2 separate regions of the Homo sapiens genome follow, and region 1 is linked to region 2. Evidence: fine-mapped expression QTL. A gene starts in region 2. The other region holds a variant in brackets. All regions are shown on one strand. Distances are between the middles of the regions. Region 1 has its middle 27 kb from the start of LINC02521. Region 2 holds the start of LINC01600 (long intergenic non-protein coding RNA 1600).

What was found. PIP is the estimated chance that this variant, and not a neighbour inherited with it, causes the effect.
Region 1: its variant is fine-mapped to the expression of LINC01600 in amygdala (GTEx, PIP 0.97).

The regions. Positions count from the first base shown.
Region 1 is chr6:2,601,557-2,612,727 of GRCh38, forward strand. No RefSeq gene overlaps it. Among named protein-coding and RNA genes, the nearest start is that of LINC02521, 27 kb to the right of the region's middle. The variant G/A (reference allele first, on the strand shown) is at 5,477.
Region 2 is chr6:2,629,831-2,641,001 of GRCh38, forward strand. It overlaps LINC01600 (long intergenic non-protein coding RNA 1600), which reads right to left and starts at 4,773. Exons shown (of 3, transcript NR_131168.1): 1 at 4,735-4,773; 2 at 3,775-3,962. LINC02521 (long intergenic non-protein coding RNA 2521) reads left to right here and starts at 4,670. Exons shown (of 3, transcript NR_149119.1): 1 at 4,670-4,925; 2 at 7,107-7,625; 3 at 9,858-10,729. RefSeq lists an enhancer at 9,587-10,102.

The sequences.
Region 1 (11,171 bases), 28 kb before region 2:
GCATAAACTCACGCTTAAGTAGGGTTTATTCTAGAACTTAAGGCTGATTAATGGCAGCAAATCAATCTGTGTCTCTGATCAAAGCAGATGAACACAGGATGCCCCCATTAAGGGTCTTAGCAGATAGACTGTAGGCATTTGGTAAAAGTCAACATCCTTTCAGAATGAAAACTTTCAGAAAGCCAAAACTGGATACTTCTTTAATATGATAAAGAATATTTCAAACCAACAGCCAACATCATACTTGATGGTGTCAGTTAGAGCCAATTCTATCAAAGTTAAGAAGAGGAGGCTCATGCTGACCACTCCTATTTACTGTTGTCAAGAAGCAACAGGGTGAAGACAGAGGAGTAAATATTGGTGAAGTGACAGAAAATTGTCCTCAGGGATAAGGAAATTCAGAGCTATTCACAGATACTAACAAATGAGTCGAACATTGCCTAAAATATTTTAGGACAATTAGCTCTTGTAATGAGGCATCTAGCAGCAGAGAGTTATGAAAAAGAAATATGTTGAAAATGTTAAACAGAACTGCAAAATGTTCACAATAGCTTTAAAAATGTGAACTGTCTACAAATTAAACTTATTTTAAGAGGAATATAGAAGGTATTTATTTAGAAAAAAGCCTTAAAAACTTTATTTTATGTTATTTTATGAGACTGAGTCTCACTTTGTCACCCAGGCTGGAGTGCAGCGGCGCGATCTCGGCTCACTGCAACCTCCACCTCCCAGGTTCAAGTGATTCTCCTGCCTCAGCCTCCTGAGTAGCTGGGATTACAGGCATCCACCACTGTGCCCGGGCAATTGTTGTATTTTTAGTAGAGACAGGGTTTCACCATGTTGGTCAGGCTGGTCTCGAACTCCTGACCTCAGGTGATCTGCCCACCTTGGCCTCCCAAAGTGCTGAGATTACAGACGTGAGCCACTGTGCCTGGCCAAGAACTTTATTAAGATTAAAAAAAAAAAAAGGCAATAAAATGGAAAGGCAGATCATGTTGCTGAGTGAGAAGATATAGTACATCCATGTAAATTATCCTCAAATGGAACGTAAAGTGTTAATGCAATCTCCATCACAACCCCAATATTTTCTTTAACTTTAAAAAGTGATTACAAATTTAAACTTGAGGAATAATTTGGGAGGAATAACTAAGAAAAATTAATAACAATACCTGAAAATGATGATGAGTGTATTTTTATTATTACATATTAATGTGTATTTTGCTACATAGTTAAAACAGGTTTCTGTTAATGTAAAAAGAGACAGAGCAGATTTAGAAAGATCATTCAAAAATCCAGAAACAGGCACAAGTGCATATCATTATTTAATATAAGATAACTTTGGCGCTTCGTATAAACAAGGAAAGGAAAGATTATTAAATGTACCAGGAAACCTACTTACCTATCTGGAAAAAATTAAGCTTTTTACCTTACTCCAAATATCAAAATAAATTCCAGATGGATTAAAGAGATAAAGTGTTAAAAATGAGACCTTACAAGTAGTAGAAGAAATTTAGCTAAATATTTATATAATTTGGGTGTTTGAACGGCCCTTTCTAAAAACAACATTGAAGTCGGGGATTGTAAACTAAATTACCAGTATCTCTGACTGCATGTGATAAATTCCATAAATCTCCTGAGCAAAATGAAATGTCACTTCACAAAGCAGAAAAATACCTGCCATATGTATTCCAGATACAGAACCAGCGTCCTTAAATATAAAGAGCTATTGCAAGCAGTATGTAAAAGACAGATTCTTTGGCCAACAATTCACTTCCTGAAGTTCATCCCAAGGAAATAAGCCCGGAGGTGGTCACCACAGAGCTTGCCCTTTTAAACTCCCTGTAGAGTTGATCGGAGAATCCACCTTTCCCAGGAGAGAGCTTCAGCAAGACCAGAGTGAGGGGGAGTCAGGGGTGCTGATGATGGTCTACTGGAAAGGATCTTTTGGGGGCAACATTGTACACCTCCGGTTGCTGGAGAAAAGGGGACACTGGGGAACTAAAAGAAGGCATCATGTAAATGGGGTGTCATGCTTGGAGGGATGTCAGAATCTAAGGACAAAGACTCCCACTTTGGGGGCCCAATAAAAAATGGCAACACTCAGCCAGAGTGGCATAAAAGGCTGCAAAGAATCCTTGAAACAACCTTATGACTTATGAGTAGTTAGTGTCACCTCTTTTGTTTTTGTTTTTATTTATTTGTTTATTTTTGAGACGGAGTCTCACTCTGTTGCCCAGGCTAGAGTGCAGTGGCATGATCTCGGCTCACTGCAACCTGTGCCTCCTGGCTTCCAGTGATTCTCCCACATCAGCCTGGCGCTAAGCCAGGCCCTGGGAATGCAGCAGTGAACCAGGGAACATAGACCCGTCCGCTAGGAGCTCTCAGATGTTCACCAATGAGCACCACAATAATGGTATAATTACGCCTGTGGCACCTGCCGTGAAGGGAATTCCGGGGAGCCACATGGGCATGTGGCAGGGGTCCCAAGTGCATTCAGTTAGCTCCCACCAGGGTGATACATTTATTCAAGGACACAGATTGGGCTGGACACGGTGGCTCACGCCTGTAATCCCAGCACTTTGGGAGGCAGAGGCAGGCGGATCACGAGGTCAGGAGATGGAGACCATCCTGGCTAACACCGTGAAACCCCGTCTCTACTAAAAATACAAAAAATTAGCCGGGCGTGGTGGGGGGCGCCTGTAGTCCCAGCTACTCTGGAGGCTGAGGCAGGAGAATGGTGTGAACCCAGGAGGCGGAGCTTGCAGTGAGCCGAGATCGCACCACTGCGCTCCAGCCTGGGCAACAGAGCGAGACTCTGTCTCAAAAAAAAAAAAAAAAAAATTACACAGATTGCCCTCATATCACCTGCTGTTTTATGTAGCTGGCCCAATTGGGACCAATAATTCTGATTTCTCCATCTTGTCTCTCTAGAAGGAAGTCCCTTCCCATAGCCAGCCACTGCCATGCATGTGGAGTGACGGCAGAGGCCCATGTGGCCTGTGTGCACTGTGATGTTCTCTGCATCAACATGGACAGAACGTGTGGGAAAAGTAAGAAAAAGAATGCAATGTACACCATAATGCCCTTTATGTAAATTAAAGCACATACACATACAAAACAGCCCAATATGTTATGTAAAAAAATCCATGATTATTTGGTTATTTGAGGACTTGTATAAAACACCTTACACTGGGTCTGGGGGTAGAAGCAGGGGGATAGCCAGGAAATCAGGGGTAAAAGGGAAAACAATACAGCAGGAGAGGAGCCTTGAACAGATTATACTGATAAATGCAATTGATTAAATCTGTCTGTGAGGTCCCCAAAGTAAACAGAAGCAAGAAATCATTTGGCAAAGCAAATAGCCTCTTGTACTGTACAGAGGGTGATCTTTAAATGCTGGCCCTAAGCTTAAGGCAGAGAAGTTTCATGATGGGAAACCAGGTCAGGAAAGATAGAAGCAGAATGGAGGAGAAAAGAAAGAAAGAAAGAGAAGAAGAAAGAAAGAAGGAAGGAAGGAAGGAGGGAGGGAAGGAGAGGCAAAGAGAAAGAGAGAGACACAAAGAGAAGAGAGAAGAAAGGAAGAAAGAAGAAAGAAAGAAAGGAAGAAAGAAAGAAAGAAAGAAAGAAAGAAAGAAAGAAAGAAAGAAAGAAAGAAAGAAAAGAAAAGAAGAAAATACACAGAGAGGCAGAGAAACAGTAGGAAAGAGGGAAGGAGGAAGGAAGGAAGGAGGGAAGGAATGAAGGAAGGGAGGGAGGGAGGGAAGGAGGGAAGGGAAGGGAAGGGAAGGAAGGAAGGGAAGGAAGGAAGATGACCAACCTAAGTGAACTCTGGGAACAACGGTGAATGTTTGTGTTTATATAAACATGTTACTTTAAGATGGTTGACTCCTTACAGACAAAGGCCATATTTTCATCACTTCCTATAAAACCTCTCTACAATACCCAACAAAGTGAGAGGTCCTTGGTGTTCCCAAAGCATTTAAGAGATAACAACAGTAATGTCCATGTGAGATCCTCGCGCTGGTGTGTGGTTTCTGAAGTGCATCCTGCAATGTGAAATGGTAGCTGCTATTCGGTGTTGATAACCTCAGTTCACTGTGGATCCCATCCGACAACGCGTGAAGTCAAGAAAAGCCAACTGTGACCCCACTGAGGGGGAAGCATCTAGTCTCTGCTTCCTGAACAGACTGTTCCAAAAACGGGGCTGTTGTTTCAGTTACTTACAGTAATAAAACCACCGCGACCCCATATCCATCTTTCCACATTCCCCACCTCCCATCCTACCCAAGGTCATGAATATCAAACTTGGAAAGGAAAAGAATGAAGGACGTCTCCCCCAGCAATTAAAATTAAGTCCTTTTTCTTGCCTCCAACTAAAATCTTGGACGTGATGGCAGTTGCATTTAGCGGGATCCCAAATGCTGCTTTTATATGCCAGCATTCCATTCGGGGGGCTGATTTGTAGGTTTAAAAATATGCAATGTATGAAAGAGAGGCTCATTTATTTATTTCCTCCCTTGACTGACCTTGGGCCTTGATTTATCTCAAAACCAAGAGAATTTTCCTCTTGGTAAAGGAGGACTAATTCTTTCAGTGAGTCCTTGATAGTTTCTGCCATCAAAAACAAACCATAAGCTGAATGTACAGAAATGCCCTGCATTTAAGAAAGATGACATGGGGAGTAGTAAAAGCAGGAGGAAGAGAAGTGTGAGAAGAAAAAGAAGCAGGGAAAATCAGGGGGAAAGTGATGTTGAACAAATCATGCACATTTCAAGATTTTTAAAAAAGCAATGCGTTTGGGGATGGATAGCTGTCACCCTTGCCACCTTGGAGGAAAGTTTTGCTGGCTAACTGGCTATTGTCAAGCAGGCCGGGCTGGTGGCCTCGGCGGGCTGGCTGACCTTCCCCTGACTCCAAGAGGAAAGAAATAGTGAGGCTCTGTGTCCTGCGAGTCGGGCCTTCCTGTGACCTGAGTGCAACGTCTCAGCCCCTCTCCGACAACCCTCCAGCAAAGCTTGCTGGAGCTCTTGGTTTATTTTTTCAGGTGAGTGAACGCCGTATCAAATACTGGTTTCTCAGTTGCTTTTAATTAGGCTTCTGGGTTCCACTCTTTCATCTCGCCTGAAATCTGCATCACTTTTCTCCAGCTATTTCAGGTTCTAAAGCCACGGGTTTGCTTTCATTCAGCTAATTGAAGGCACACAGGAAAGGAGAAGGGGGATAATCCCAATCATTGGACATTTTTTAGGGCTGTGATAAACCACACATTTTTTAGCAACAGAAAACCACTTTCAAAACGTTAACTCTGCGGCCTCTGCTCAGGGGCTGGAGGGCCTACCCCTGAGGCTTCAAGGTTCATGTCATGTGGGATTCTCTGAGACTCCTCGATGCAGGTAGAGAGCAGGAGGGCAGGTGAGATGCCGTGATGTGACGGAACAGGCCCCATCACTGTCCCTTTCTGGTGTCGAGCTACTGG[G/A]AACATCGCTGTTGAACTGTGTATCTGCAAAGCTCTGGGGTGGAGGCCCAGCCACACACAACATCGGAGAACAGAGCTGATGCTGATGTCCCCTGAAGTGTCAGCCAGCAGCCAGGTGCTTGCTTAATCCCAGAAAGGGCAGTATATATTTTTCAGTAAAATTTTATTAAATCCTAATAGCAGATCTTTTTTTGTGGAGCAAAAAACTCTTGAAAACTATATTCATGAGGTATGTATAATTTGTTGGTTTTACCAAGGCTTTTTAGTAAACAAGCTTTAGATCTTGCCAGAGTATTCAAAATAGGTTTATGTAGAGCAAATATTTAAATTTATCTGTTATTCTATTTTTATAATTAATGAATAGGATTATAGGCATTTAATAAAACTTCTACAAAATAGAGCAGGGTGGGGGGGTGAATCCTACTTATTTGCTACCAAAAGAATCAAAATAACATTTATATTTATATCTCAATATATGGTTCTTCAAGTCATTTCAGGAGATGAAACAGTATGTGTTACCAACGGCTTTTAATTATAAAAACAAAGTGTTTAAATGGATCCAACACAGTCAGTTGGCAATACATCTAAATTCCATGTTATAGTGGCCTTTGTAAGGCAACAAATGGGGAAAGTACTTGTTAATTCATACAACGTCAAAGAATACCTGATACCTAAATAGCTCCCACAGTCAATTGAAAAAAGACCAACTATTGGGAAAATGACACTTTCCAGACAAGATCACAGAAGTTTAGATAGGTGAGAAGATACTCAGCCTCACTCATGATAATTAAAATGCAAATTAAACTATACTGAGATTTCATTTTCCAACTCCCAGGTTGTTTAAAAAAAAAAAACAAACCTAACAGGTTAATATGCTGGTGGCAATGGAGTAGAGGAAAGACATTTATTAAAAGCTGAAGGGCCCAGCACTTTGGGAGGCCAAGGCGGGCTCATGATGAGGTCAAGAGATCGAGACTATCCTATCTAACATGGTGAAATCCCACCTCTACTAAAAATACAAAAATTAGCTGAGCGTGGTGGTGCACACCTGTAGTCCCAGCTACTTGGGAAGCTGAGACAGGAGAATCGCTTGAACCCGGGAGGTGGAGGTTGCAGTGAGCCGAGATCATGCCACTGCACTCCAGCCTGGCAACAGAATGAAACTCCATCTCAAAAAAAAAAAAAAAAAAAAAAAGCTGATGGGAACATATATTGGTTTCAATTTCTATGGGAATTTGGCAATACCTACTAAAATTATAAATGCAAATGCCCTTTGACCCAAACTTCTTTTTCCAAAAATTTATTCGACAAATACATTCACCTAGAGGAAAAGTTCCTCTATGTCCCCACTTTCCATACTGTGCTCTTTGGAAGGAAGTCATTATCTGCAGCCCACATTTATGGGGTGGGGAGTTAATACTCCCCATCCTTGAGGGCAGAGTATCTACAGAAATTATTTGAAATTTTCTGCACAGAACATTTGTCTCTTTTCTTCAATTCATTTATTTTTTCAATCATTTGTTGATATCCGTATGAGTTCGTGGTTATTTATTTTATACTTTGAGTTATCATCCAAAGCTACTTTATTTACTTAGCTGAGTTTTTGATTAAACGGAATGATTGTTTTGGCATCCAGTAAAAATTGGCTTAGAACCCAGAGCTCATCACACAGCTCTGTGACCTAGTAGTCTCTTTGTATGTGCTCATGGAGTACCCATGTCTCTAGTCGTTTATTGGTTTGTCAAGGGTGTACCATGTGCCCTTTACTGTGCTAGGGGTACAGCAGTGAATGGAAGAGACTGCCTGCCTGCCTGCCCATGGGAATTATCAACCTAATGTCTGACTGATTTACTGTATATGTAGCATGGCACTAGAAAATCTGGGGCAACAGCAGGGGCAATATTATTCCTTTGGAATGATAGTAGTCATCTGGGCAGGCTAGAGGGACACCCAGACTCACACAAGACTAGAGAGAAAATAGGCGTAGAATAAATATAAGCCAAAACACCAACACCTGTCTGGTGTGCTGAAGGATGAGGTGAATCAAAGACAGATTTCTTGAGATGGCATGGAATAGACGCTCTTATAAAAGTTTTGTTAAAAGGAACTAGGCAATCATTGGAAGGATGGGGTCAGATGTAGATTTTCCTATGCAGCATTTAAAAAAATAGAACAGACAGACTATCCATAAAACGCAGGAAGAGGAGGAGGCCATAGGAGACTGAGGCTGTAGCTGAGAGGTCACCCATAGAGCAGACACTTCCAGCCACAGGAGGGGCAGAGGGTTTAGTTTTGGAGAGAGGATGAATGTGGAGAAAAGTAAAACACTCAACATTCAATGTAAAAGGGAATATGTATTGTTAGGCTCTCTGAGAGGCGAAATAGACCATGAATTCTTAACAGCTTCTTGTGTGTTGGAAAGACCTATGAAAAGTTTCATTAAGTTTTGGGGAAAAGCAGGTAGGGTAACTCCATAAATCTAATGTCGAGCTGCTGTGGTGTTTCTTTGAATGGTGAAAGATACATTTTTTCCCTTTAGTTTGCCAAATTTTACTGCCCACACTCTTACCATTGCTGCCGGGAGATCTGATATGTTGAACTCTTAATATGATGAATACATGTCTGAGGATTGAAAGAAAAGCAGTGGCATTAAAAATGTCAGAATAACAGCAGTGTAGTTTCAGTGTTCTCCATGAGCCGTCACTCCTAACAATGGGTTCTTGCTTGTCAAACCTCATATGTTGCTTTGTAGAAGCAAATACACTGACTGGGATCTGCCTTGAGAAAAGAAAACAAAAAACAAGGTTGAACGTTGGGCGTTTTCGTTTTCAGTCTGAGCTTTGAAGGTAAATTTCGTCCTTGATTGTTTTGTTATTTTCTTTGGGCTCAAACTCTTGGGCTCCATCTTTCTTTGGCCAAGTCCAGGTTTCTTGGGTTCTTTCCATTTTCTCCAGGATTATCCACACATGTGCTTCCTTTCCCACTGTTTCTACTAAACAGATACTGGACGTAGAATTACAAAGTTACATAGTCTTCTTTAAGACTTTAATTTTTTAAAGCAGTTTTAGGGCCATGGCAAAATAGAGAGGAAGGTGACGAGATTTCCAATATACCCTCTGCACAGCCTCCCAGTGATCAACACCCTCACCAGAGTGGCATACATGTCACAGTCAATGAACCCACCCATATTCACACATCATCACCACCCAGAGTCCATCGTTCACATTAGGTTCACTCTTGGTATTTGGACCAATGTATAATGATATCATCCACTATTACGGTATCATACAGAGTAGTCGCACTGCTCTAAAAATCCTCTGTGCTCCACCTATTCATCCCTCCCTCCCCCTAACTCCTGGCAACCACTGATATTTTTACTGTCTTCATAGTTTTGCCTTTTCCAGAATGACACATAGTTAGAGTCACAGTATGGAGCCTTCTCAGATTGGCTTCTTTTAACTAGCAGCATGTACTTAAGGCTCCTCTATGTCTTTTCATGGCTTATTAGCTCATTTCTCTTTAGTGTGAATAATATTCCATTGTCTGGATGTACCACAGTTTATTTATCCATTCACCCACTAAAGAACATCTTGGTTGATTCCAAGTTTGAGCAATTATGAATAAAGCTGCCATAAATATCTGTGTGCAGGTTTTTGTGTGGACATAAGTTTTTAACTCCTTTGGGTAAATACCAAGTAGCATGATTACTGGATTATATAATAAGGGTATGTTAGTTTTGTAAGAAACTGCCAAACTGTCTCCTAATGTGGTCGTACTGTTTTGCGTTCCCACCAGCAATGAATGAGGGTTCCTGTTGCTCCACATTCTCACCATTTGATGTTGGCCATTCTAACGGCTGTGTGCTGGTATTTCATAGTTTTAATTTGCATTTCCCTGATGACTGTGATGTGGGGCATCTTTCCATACAGTTATTTGCCATCTGTATACCTTCTTTGGTGAGGGATCTGCTAGGTCTCTTGGCTCATTTTCTAATTGAGTTGTTTTCTTATTGTTGAGTTTTAAGAGTCTTTGTCTATTTTGGATACCAGTCCTTTCTCAGATGTGTCTTTTGCAAGTATGTTCTCACAGTCTGTGGCATGTCTTCTCATTCCCTTGATAACTTTTTCACTTACAGCTTTGCAAATGTTAGTAAATGACCATAATAGGGCTCTGGAGCAACACAAGCAATGTCCTCTCATGAGGCTCCAGGTGGCAGTGATTGCTCTGAATCCCAGCATTGCTGCTGCAGCCTGGCCAGCAAGTGATTCATCACTGTCAATGTTTTCATATCTTAACTTCCTTCTGAGGAGTGTCTCAGAGTCTGGTAAATGGTACCAAGAAATCTCCACCCTCAGTCCAGCTGGCTTCGTGTGGACCAGCTGAGTGGTGTGGGGGACTAGGAAACTGGATTTCTACCCAGTTGTCATTCTGTGTCCAACGTATTGGTAGGAAATAGGCATCAACTCAAGAAACCAAATCCCCCTAAACTAACATCAATTAGTTTGAGATCAGCTCTCTCCCCTTCTCCAAGTGTTATAGGTACATTTACAGTTTTAGTTCTGGATTTTGTAAACTGCATTCTCCTGATCATAGCGGACAAGTTCCTGTGCCACTTACTGATATGTGATGACAATCATGATTAAGAAGAATAATAGTGACAATTTACATTTCTATGCACATTAGACATACAAAGTGGCTTCACATGTTTCCTCATCTAGTGATTGTGGGACCTTCTTTACAAGCTTTGTCTTTGTAATGATCGTAGTTAACATTTATGGAGCCCTCATTGTGTTCCAAATTCTGTTCCATGACTTTTATTTGGACTAATTCATTTAACCCTTATAATAACCTCTGGCAGGGACTGTTACTATTCCCATTTTACAGATGAGAAGACCAAAGCATGACACCTTGCCCAGAGGTTGTTTGTTTGTTTGTTTTGAGACAGGGTCTTACTCTGTCGCCCAGGCTGGAGTGCAGTGGCGTGAGCAGGGCTCACAGCTCACAGCAGCCTTGGAGTCTTGGGCTCAAGCAATCTTCCCGACTCAGCCTCCCAAGTAGCTAGGAATACAGGTATGTACCATCACACCCAGCCAATTTTTAAATTTTTTGTACAGACAAGGTCTCTCTATGTTGCCCAGGCTGGCCTTGAACTCCTGGCCTCAAGCAATCCTCCCACTTCAGCCTCCTAAAGTGCTGGGATTACAGGCGTGAGCCACTGTGCCTAGCCCTGCCCAGAGCTGAACATACCCAAGGCTGTCCGGTTTCAGTGCCTACACCCATATCTGCTCTGCTACCCTGCTTGGGTTCAAATCTCGACTTGCCACTTACTCTCTGCATGAGCTTGGACTACTTATCTAACCTTTTTTATCTCAGCCCCTTCATTTAAAAATAAGGATAATAATAATATCAGTTACATAGGGATTTGATTGAATGGCATACTTTTTGTGAAGTTTCTGCTATGTGCTAAGTAGTGTTAGGTATTATTTTCATCCTGGACCATGTATTCTTCTGATAAACATTGAGCACACGTTCTCTGCCCGGTGGTAGGCTTACACTGAGGGTCCCAGGGTATATGAGTCTCCTACTGATGCTATAACAAATTGCCTGAAGCTTGGTGGCTTAAAACAACACAAGTCTGATTTATAATCCTTTGGGTATATACCCAGTAATGGGATTGCTGGGTCAAATCTTATTT
Region 2 (11,171 bases):
AACCTGCACTGTGGGAACTTGCCAGCCCCACAATGGCATGAGCCAAGTCCTCAAACTATACTTCTCATCCTCTCTCGAATGTTGAATTTTGTTATGAAAAATACCTGGGTCACCTAGGATAGGATGCTAACATCTGTCCTTTCTAGACGGTGGTTGTAGTGGGTTGAATAGTGTCCCCCCGCAAAAAAAATACATCCACCCATAACCTGTGAATGTGATGATATTTGGAGTCTTTGCAGACATAATTAAGTTGGGGATTGGAGATGAGATCATCTTGGATCAGAGTGGACCCTAAATCCAATGACAAGTGCTTACCATCACAGACTCCAGTTTTGCTTCGAAAATTCTGAAACTATTCTAAAAAAATATGTTAATGTATTTGAGAGAAAATGAAGACACAACATAAAGGTGTGATGACTCTATCTGACCTGCACAGCAGCTCTTAAGCAGCCCTTGTCCCTCTTGGGTAGAATAAATTTATACAGTAGAATGTATACATTCTAGTTTATACATTAGAATATGGTCTTAGACCTTCCCGCCAGTCCTCTCACCCTCTCTCCCTCACTTTAGCAATGCTGGAAGCCAGGGGCTCCAGACGGCCCAGCTACAAGATGGAAGTGGCAAGGATCCCGCTCACCCGAGGAGAGTTGGCCTGGAGAGCTGCCTGACCCAGCCTTTAATGAGCAAGAGGTAAACTTTTCTTACGTCACTGAGACCTTGGGGTTTGTTTCCACAGCATGACCTGTTTTTCCTGACTCATACAAGCCCCTGGAAGCATCTGACTCACTAATCCATTGACCTTCTCTAACATCAGCATTTACGGATCCTGCCATCAAAATTCTTCATTCATTATGAGGGCTCAGTCAGTTCTCCTTAGGATTATTAAACCATTAGTAAAAGTGCATTAAAATCAGCTTATAATCTCTTCCAGTGGGATTTCACAAATATCACTCCATAGCCAAATGGTTTACCGTTCTCTTCTGACTCAGAAAAGCATATTGTAATTAGAACACTTTTTGCACAATAATAAAAACAAAACAGCTTTCACAGGTTGCGCTGGATGTCAAACGTGGGTAAACCACTCAATTTTGAGCTCAGCTTGGCACAGGTTTATTTATTTACAGGCACTTCAAAAAGAAGGGGGTAGGCCACATCTACATAGCCCAGGGTGTGGAGCGTGGATGTGTCTGTCTGTTTGTTATGACTAAGTCTTGCTCAGTCCTAATTCTTCCTGGTCAAAAATTGTTATTTTTAAAAGACTCCTTGAACACAAAACCCTTCAGATGTGATGGAGATGTGGCCAAGGGAAGCAGGGAAGTGTGGTGATGTTGTGATGTGAATGCAGGCTCTGAGCCCAGATCCCAAATCCTGACACCCACCAGCAGCTGTGCATGTTTGAACTTATGAACCCATTTCCGCAGGTGGAAAATGGGTGAGTAAGCTTACCCTCGGCCTTGTCAGGAACATGAGAAGGCCTCAGTAGGGAGCCTGGCTAGTCCTGCCCCCAGGCTTAGCGGCGGCTCTTCCTGAAGTCCTGCTGACCGGAAGGAACGTCACAAACATCTCCTGCCCACAGGTGAAGGAGGCCTGGGGAAGATGGAGGAGGCGGCCCATCTCTAGGCACCTTCCACGGAACACTGGCCCCCACACGCCAACCGTGCAACAGCCCCGTCCTGGCAGCTGATCCCTTAGCTGTCCGGGAATTCCAAGCACATCTTTGGAAGAGCTAGTTGGGTCCTTTCTGGGGGCATGGAAAGGAGGACCAAGGTCTTATCTGACTGAGGTGAGGAGCAGACACCACGGGGAGTAGGGAAAGAGAAAACTGCAGCCCAGAAGGCGCTTCCTTTACAGAATCCCGAGGCCAACTCAGGCAAATGTCAAGAGCAGGAAAAGCCACCAACTTCAATTCAATTAAATGCATAGGACCGACTTTCAAGAAGGAATAATCTGGGTATTGACAAGCTTGAATTCAAGTTAATGCAAGAGAGAGAGGTCTTGAAGGACATTCATTAAACTGTTCCTGGTTATCCCTGGACGGCGGCAGTTGGGGTGATGTTCACGTTTATTTTACAAAAGCAATTAAGCTACTTTGAATAAAGGAGGAAAAGGAAACATGAAAGAAGTACCCAAGTTCTGAGTCAGAGATCTGACTTCAAATCCCAATTCCACCACCACCAGCTGTGACCATGAGTGGTCCCAGCATTAATGAGGGCCTCAGTTTCTGCATCTGCGGAACGGGAATAACAGTATCTACCTCCTAGGATTATCAAAGCTTAAAGTGGATAATTTAGGATATGCCAAACATCTGGAATCGGGCTCAAAAAGTGGTAAAGAATTTTGAAGATATTTTTCTTTAACACTCCAAAACAACTTTCAGGGAAAGTCATTTTTCATGGAAGGTGCTGACTTTATTGGAGACTGACCATCTCCTCATCACAGTCTACTCCAGAAAAATCAGAGGGAGGTGGGGAATGTTGTACCCAACTTTCTAATGTCTCTAAGACGTGGGTGGCAAGGGTAGGCTGTTAGCACTCCAGAATAACGTTGCTATGCACCCATTCAGGGCTTAGCCTCACAGCCAAACTGAGATCCAGACCCCAGAGAAGCCGCGTGAATCAACAGCAACTCTGCAGCCCCCGACCCCAGCCCTGGCGTCCCACTCACTGAGGCTCTGGCCAGGTGGCGGTGACTCAAACCTTCTCCATTTTAACTTGGCATCTCAGAGCTTCTGGACAGAGTCCACAAATACATGAGACAAAAATAGGCCAGCATACCCTCCCTTGCCAGGCCCTCATTGTTGAGGGATGAGATGAGGGCTGGGCAAGCGGTTACACAGCCGAAACCAGGGCCCTAGAACCCAGCTCTGCCAGCATGGGCGCCCCACAGCTCTGCCCACAGCGTCTGCTCTTTATTCTTGGTTTCTCCTCTCCTTCTCTTCCACTTCCCATTCTTTGTGATCCATCTTTTTCCAAAAGTTGACAGGTTGGCTGGAGACAATTCCCCCTGCCAGCTTTTCTGTCTTTTCCACCTTTAGTTTAAGTTGTCCATGAGGGCTGGTGATCCATTTTCGGTCCTCCATACCTTCCTGGGCAATCCCTCTGGGCCCTCACACCTCCACGCCCTCCACCCTCCCAGCTCCTTCCTCCCGGGGCCTCGAGCTTTTCCCTTTTTTCATCCTCTGTGCACTGTTTCACCCCGACATGTATGTTATTGTTTGACTGTGGCATCAGCCATTCTTGGAGACTTTTCCCAGGGCTTGCAATTTTGTAGCAGAGAGAGATTTTCTATCTAAAGCAAAATGCTGGTCTTGTTTAAATAAATAATAAGATAAAAGAATCAGGCACTGTAGGGGTATTTGGCCCACAGCCATCCTGTCTCAGCAGGGTCCTTTTCATTGAGGGAAGCATTTTTCATATCCATAATTTGCCCCTTTCTCTAACCCAGGGTGCACGCTGCCGTGGCCCTTGGTGACAATGTCCCCTGTGGCCTTCCTCCAAAGCTTGCTCCAGCAAGCTCTGACATGGTGTCCTCCCTCCCCTTCTGGGCTGCGGCTTCTCCAACCTCCCCCAGCTCCTGCAGACAGAGGAGAAACAGCAAGTCACAAGATAAGACAAAGACCCTCTAGGCCAGGCCACTCCTCGCTGCCACTCTGGGACAGCAAGGCAAAACGCAGACGGCCCCAGCTCTGGACGCCTCTCCTCCTCTGGACCCTAACCCTAACCCTAAGCCACTGGAACACTCACGGGAGAAAGCTGGACCTGCTTTGAGGCTCACCTCCCTGCATGCACATCCATCCGGCTTCTCTCAAGAAGCAACCTGGTGTCTGAGAGCCGTTGAGTCTTCATCCCAGCTCTGGTATTTCTCTCATGTGGCCACATAACCTTGAATGTCTGACCTTCAATTTCTTCATCTGTACAGTGGTGAAGATGATCCCCACTTTGCTAGGTTGTTGTGAGCATTACCTAAAAGAAAATAGGTGCTATGGCGGCATGTTTGTTGAGCTAGGAGGACTCGGAACAAAATTAGCTTCTGCACCGGCTGTGCTGGAGCCAGGCAGGCCGCTCCGGTGTGGCCCTGTTTTTCCTGGTTTGTGTCCCAGGAACCTGCCAACCCTCATTGTCCCGGATTTTCCCTTTGACTCCAAAAGCCGTGTCTTTCTTATCAAGCCTCTTTATTTTTGTTATTATCCCGTCAACATACTCCCCTCTGATTCGCCCCCACTAATGACTCGCGCCCTTTCCAAAGTCCCAGCACACCGCGCTTATAATCTCTTTCAGCTGTCCTTAAAAAGGTTCTATTTGTCCCCTCCGCCCCGCTCAGGGGCGCCCGGACTCTGGGGCCCGGCCTTCGCGGGCTCCCGGGTTCCTCCCATCGCTTCCCTCACAGTCCTGGCCGCAGGGCAGCGGGTTTCGCACGGGAGGGAAGGTTTGGATGGCTAACGCCCAGGGTTGGTCTTCCCTGTGTCTTTTATGGGAACACGTTCCTGCCTGCGCCCCACGGGACAGAGCCGTTTTCCCGCCCCGCCACGCCGCGCCCGCAGGCCCCGCTGCCCGCAGCCTCTTCCCGACGCCCCAGGCCGTGCGCCCCCCCGAACCGGGCCCACCGCGTGCTGTGCGGGGCTTCCGCGCCTGCGCACGAACGCTTCTGCGAGCTTTCTCGGAAGCAGCTGGGGGGCGGGGAATCTGCTGAGGAACGGCGCTTTATAAATCAAAAGATAATAATAACAGAGCTTACGGTGAGCACCGGAGGCTGGAAACGGGGTGGCATCCGCTCGGGGCGGGGCGGCGTCGCCAGCGAATGACAACACTGCCCCCTGGTGGCCGATGCGGCCAGGCCCGAGAGAGCGCAGGCCGGGTGCGAGCCAGGCTTCCTCACCACGCGGCTTCCCCACTCATCCCATAGAAACCGTAACTGAGCAAATGACGGTAAGTCCCCAGGAAGCGTTAAGGCCAGGAAGCAGCACAGGAGAAAAACCCGAATCCCATTTTTTTAGAGTAGGGATTTATTTGTTGTCCCCAGATAGCAAGCTGAATTTCTGAATAGTTCAGAGCTCACAAAAGAAGCCAAGACCTTTCAGGGCATTTTATAATGTTGCTTTTTATAAACAAAATATTGAAACCACTACTATCACTGTCACTGGGGGATTACTGTTGAGCAGAAATGCTTGTGAAACTCCCAAAAGAAAGGGTCGTTTGTGCTTCTTTGGCATTAAGTAAAAATGTCCTGTTTGGTGTGTACACGTTTTCATATTTAATTATTCACACTGTGCACTTTATATATAAACTCAGCACTTAGGTTCTCTGTGAGCCAGAAACCTGGCTTCTGTGCTCATCCATAGACCCAGTGAGAGTGTAGAAGCCAAGCCTGGTGGAGCCTGTGTCTACCAGGGCATTGCAGTAAAGCTTCTACCACTCACTGTAAATACCTCCCATCGAGGCTGAGGAAAAGTTGTAGCATACTTGGAAATTGGGGTGGAGTATTGTCATCCAAAAAGGCATATTTCTTTTGGTGTTTTCCATACCCGGCTGTGTCATTGTGAAGCCTCAGCTCTCCCAATCTCCCCATAAACTGGAGGAATCCTAGTGTTTCCTGTCCTGCCACATTATGTGTGGGGAAGATTTTTTTTTTTTTTTTTGAGACAGAGTTTCACTCTTGTTACCCAGGCTGGAGTGCAATGGCGCGACCTTGGCTCACTGCAACCTCTGCTTCCTGGGTTCAAGCGATTCTTCTGCCTCAGCCTCTGGAGTACGGAGCTGGGATTACAGGCACCCGCCACCATGCCCGACTATTTTTTGTATTTTTTAGTAGAGACCGGGTTTCACCATGTTGGCCAGGCTGGTCTCAAACTCCTGACCTCAGGTGATCCACCCGCCTCGGCCTCCCAAAATGCAGAAAGAGTCTTAAGATGGATTTTTAGTAAGTACTTCAAGCGGCTTTATGAAAGCTACCGTCAGTAAAGTAGAAAACTATATATGCACATATTTAGATATGGAGCTCCCACGGAGGAAGTGCTCTGACAGGTCAAATCTGCCCCCAAAATAAGTTGATAGAACTTCAAGGAAGCATGAAAGCGGCCTTGCTGTGCATTTCATTTTATGGAGCGTAAGTGCCTAATAAATGAATGTGTGGGTCTGAAGAAAGTGATATTTTCTAATGAAGTTATAAGTGTCGCAGTCCGGAAAAGTAGAACCCAAACAAACACAAAAAGGAGCGTGCAAGGCCCACGCCGCGCTGCACAGACTCTCCCCACCTGGTGAATGCTGACCTGGGGCCAGGCCACAGGCAGGGAGAGAAAGGTCGCCGGCATGAACACCAGGTGACCCCGTGAAGTGTGTGCTTCTGAGAGCAGGGGTCCCCCAAGTGAAGTGGGCGATGGCCTCCACCACCTTGAGAGCTCGTCATCCACTGTTTTTAACACTGCCTTCTGTTTTGCTTTAGTTCTGCTAAGATACACCTAACATAAAATGGACCCTCTTAACCTTTTTTAAGTGTGCAGTTCAATGGCATTAAGTACATTCACATTACTATGCAACCATCACCGTCATCCATCTCCGGGACTTTCTCCTCTTCCTAGATGGAAACTCTGGCCCCACTACACACCAACTCCCCATCTTCTCTCCCCCGTTCCAGTTGCTGTCTTTGTGAATTTGACCACTAGGAACCTCACACAACGTTTATCCTTTTTATCACAGGATTACTACACTTAGCAGGATGTCCCCCAGGCTCATGCACGTTGTAGCGTGTCAGGGTTTCCCTCCCTGTTAAGGTGAGTCGCGTTCCATCATACGCACCCATCACGTCTTGCTTATCCATTGATCTGTCCATGGATCCATGGACGCTTGGGTTGTTTCCACCTTCTGCCTAATGTGAATAACACTTCTGTGAACACGGGTGTACACGTAACTCCTTGAGACCCTGCTTTCGATTCCTTTGGATATATACCCGGAAGAGGATTGCTGGATAACGTGGTGATTCCGTTTAATTTTTGGAGGAGCCACTGTACAGATTTCCGCGCGGCCGCACAGCTTTTCCGTCCCACCCGCGGTTCCGAAGGGCCCACTTTCTCCACGTCCTCCCCAACGTTGTTGTTTCTGGATTTTTGACAGAGGCCATCCTGATGAGTACGAGGTGGTAGAGCTGCCTGCTTTTTGATTAATGTGACGATCACACCCTCTGCCTGGGAGTTTTACAGACTGGTGATGACTTTTTGTGGCATCTCAGGAAAGAACATAACTTCGTGGACGTCCTTAGTCAGAATCTACTCAGTGTATCTACTCAGTATAGGCTCACATGAGCCCTCACCTTCCCAGGGAGTCACAACCTCTACTATACTTCTTCTTTCTGCTCTGCCCCCCACAAACGGCCCTGCCAGCCCTCACCACCTAGAGGGAGATTGGGAGCCGGTAGAGGAAAGACACCCTGAATCCCCGAGGTCAAGCAAAGCCCTGGGGAGGCGCCGTGGGATCCCTGCCTCGGGCCTGCCTAGACAGTATGTGAATGAGTATCCCAGAGATTCTCCCCGCTGTGACCTCGAGGGCCAGCCTGCCTGTGTGGCCGTGAGCTGCTTTCTTCCCAGAGGAACTTGCTTGCGGCAGCAGGACTCCACAGCCTCAGGGGCAGCTTGGGTATGTGTGTGTTCCTGTGCCACGGTTATATGTCCGTTTGGGTGTGTGTGTTTCTGTGTGTGTGTGTGTGTGTGTGTGTGTGTGTGTGCGCGTGCGGGGGTGGGGGGTGTTTGGCAGGACCAATGTGTCTTGTATACTCAAGGGCGGATTCTTTCAAGCCAGCCTTCTTTCTGATGCTCTGCTCCCTGCGTTTCCACTCGTGCTGTGTGGCTGGTTAATATTTGTTTATCGTGTGCTTCCCATTAAAATGTCTTTAGGCCAGCCGGGTGTGGTGGCTCACGCCTGTAATCCCAGCACTTTGGGAGGTTGAGGTGGGCGGATCACGAGGTCAGGAGATCAAGACCATCCTGGCCAACATGGTGAAACCCCGTCTCTATTGAAAATACAAAAATTAGCTGGGCATGATGGTGCGTGCTTGTAATCCCAGCTACTCGGGAGGCTGAGGCAAGAGAATCACTTGAACTCAGGAGACAGAGGTTGCCGTGAGCCAAGATTGCGCCACTGCACCCCAGCCTGGTGACAGAGTGAGTCTCCATCTAAAAAAAAAAAAATTTCTTTAGGCCGTGGCAAAGTGGGGAGCTGCGTCCGTTGGGTGAAGGTCCAAATCACCTCCCCATCCCAAGGGGTCACTTCTCTAGAGGGAATATGACACACGCAAGAACCAAAACCCCAGAGGAGCTGCCTGTCCAGCTTCAAGAAAGGTTCAGACAGATGTCCAAGGTGGTGGATGGAACTCCTTTTCCCCTTTTCCTCTCCTTGCAAAATCTAGCCACATCATGGCCCAACGATGGAGAAGAAGCTGAGAACTTGGCAAGGATCTCTTTTCCTCCAACTGTGGCCTTTCTGGCTAGGCCGCCGGTTGGGCACTCATTCCCAGCTCCACACGGCAGTGGCCTTGCTGCGTTCTGCCTTGCTCTTTTTCTGTCTACACTGCCCTCACCCTTTTTCTGTCTTCCATGTTCCTGCTGGGCCTCAATTTTTCTTGATCTGGCTCAGAGTCTTCAACCAGCCACATTTCCCAGTTCATCCGGGATCTTTTTTTCCTTCTCCAAACCTCTCTCTGCATGGTTGGGCAGGTGGGAGGATCCTGGAGCTCTGGGTTTCCATACCTGTCGCCCACACAGACATTCCCTTGGTCTCCAGGGTTCAAGCAGACGGCGGCATGACCCTATAGGATGAGCGGTAGCCAAGCGTGGCTGGCCTTTGCCTTCTAAGAAAGGTGGAGTTTCCTGGCATCTACAGTGCCTTCGCCACTCTTGAGGGATATCCAGCCCCTCTGCTCCCGGGTGGGACTGCCTCCCAGCACTAAGTCTTCTGACTGCCACGGATTTCACTGAGCCAAGTGGACTGAGGGTTGGCCTGCTGCAGCTGAGGGTGTGTGTGCTGTCACCAGCATAGGGGTGGGAGTGGCTGGCACATCACAGGAACGTCTTGGGTCTTCTGGCAGGCATCCCTGAAGGTGGCTTGGACCCCAGTGTGGCCCTCTTGGGGTCCTCAGGTGTGCTTGGCCTTTCCTTCACTTTATTGGTGAGGGGGTCGTCAGTCTTGGAATGGCTCTATACCTCCTCGGAGACACACACTCACTCCACCTGCTAGAGAGCCTGGTCACAGCGCCTGCTTCCGCTGCCTGAGGGTGAGTTCCTGAGGATCAGCACAGCAGGAGCCTTCTGTGGCAGTGCCTCAGTGTCGTGCTGCTGTGGCCTGTTTTTTCCAGGGTGTCGCCGGGATGGTCCTGGGATCTTAGGAGTCGCAGAGGGCCGACCAGGATGAACAAACGTCAATCAGAGCCCCAGTGATGCACTGCGGGATCCCTGTCTCAGTCCTGCCTAGGTGATGTGTGGATGAGTCTCCCCTGAGATCGTCCCACTGTGACTTCGAGGGCTGGCCTGCCTGTATGGCCATGGGCTGCTCTCTTCCCAGAGGGGCTTCCTGGCAGCCGCAGAACCCCGCAGCCTCAGGGGCAGCCTGGGTGTGTGTGTGTTTTTATACCACGGTTGTATGTCCGTCTCTGTGTGTGTGTATATGTCTGTGTGCATGTGTGTGTGTTTGTGTGTTTGTGTGTGGGGGGTTGTGTGTTTGTCATGTCAGGCAGGACCAATGTCGCTTGTATACGCGAGGGCAGATTCTTGAAGGTCACGCTTCTTCCTGGTGCACAGCTTTCTGCGTTTCTGCTTCAGCTGTGTGGCTGGTTGGCATTTGTTGATCTTGCATGTCCTGTTTGGGTTTGTTTAGGCCTCGGCAAAGTGGGGAGCTGCCTCGGTCCAGCAGGGGTCCAGATCACCTCCTCATTTAGAGGGACCATGTCTCTAGAGAGATGACATGCCAAAAACGGAAACCTCACAGGAGCTTTTTGTCCACCTGCAAGCGAGGTGCAGACACGTTTGAGATGGTGGATGGACTTTTTTTTTTCTCTTTTCTCTCTTTCCAAAATCTGGACACACCATGGCCCAGTGATGGAGAAGAAGTCGAGGACCTGTCAAGGATCTTCTTTCTTAGGAGTGGCGGAGGGCTGACCAGTCTCAATAAAGCACAGGGGGAGCCCCTGTGACCCAGCGTCTGGGTGGCAGCCTGTGGACAATCTGCAGCTCATCTGGATCACGCAGCTCAGCTGAACTCACAGCCCGAGGTCCAGCACTGCCCAGGGGCTGGCAGCCGTCCTGCTTGGGTGGGGCTCTGCAGGATGGGCAACCACACGACGGTCTCCCTGGGAGCCTGGGAAAAGGGAGGATTCACAGATTACAAGGGGACAAGACCCTGTTGGACAAAAATGACCAAGTGGGAAGCTGCCTAGCTCTGACCAGGTCTGGGAACACACTGGGATTGGAAGTCATCTAAATATAGCCTGTTTATAGACTGCGATCTGACTTTCTCAGGCACTGTTTGTATGAGAGCTGGTAACTATAGCACAATTTTTCTAAACTGGTCATTTTCAACACTGACTTTTTATTTGCATTTGAAATGATTTTATTATTGGCACCAGAGAACTAGAACCTCGGACTATTGCTGTGGCTGAAAGCTACGCACAGCTTTCCATGAAATCTTAATTTATCAGCCTGTTTGGGTGTTTGAACATTTAAAGCAAGCAAGATAAAAGAATCTGAAGGGATTGCTTCTTTTCACATCTTGTCATTCATCCGGCTTTGTTTTTAACTGCTCAGTTCAGTTCACTGAAAGTCTGTATTAATGCTTCACCCATCCACAGAGGTGTAAATATGAATGACAGTGGGAGGAAGATAATCCCATAGTCTTGGGACAGTGGGGCATCCAAATACCTGCACGACAAAGGAGTAAAGAGACTTAGTAGGAAATCCAAGTTACCCTTTTCCCCCTCACTGCAGGCATTCCCCAGGTTTCAGGAATCAACGCCTGCATTTGCTTTCATCCTTTCTCTTAGCCAGTGGTCCCCTCAACCACGGCTATCTCTGAGAATCCCCTGGGCAGATTTTCAAAGTTCCATGCCCAGCCATGCCCAGGGTGCACCCCAGACTGGTCATCAGGTCCCAACCCTTGGGGTGGGTGTGCAAAAGCTCCCTAGTGGATTCTCAA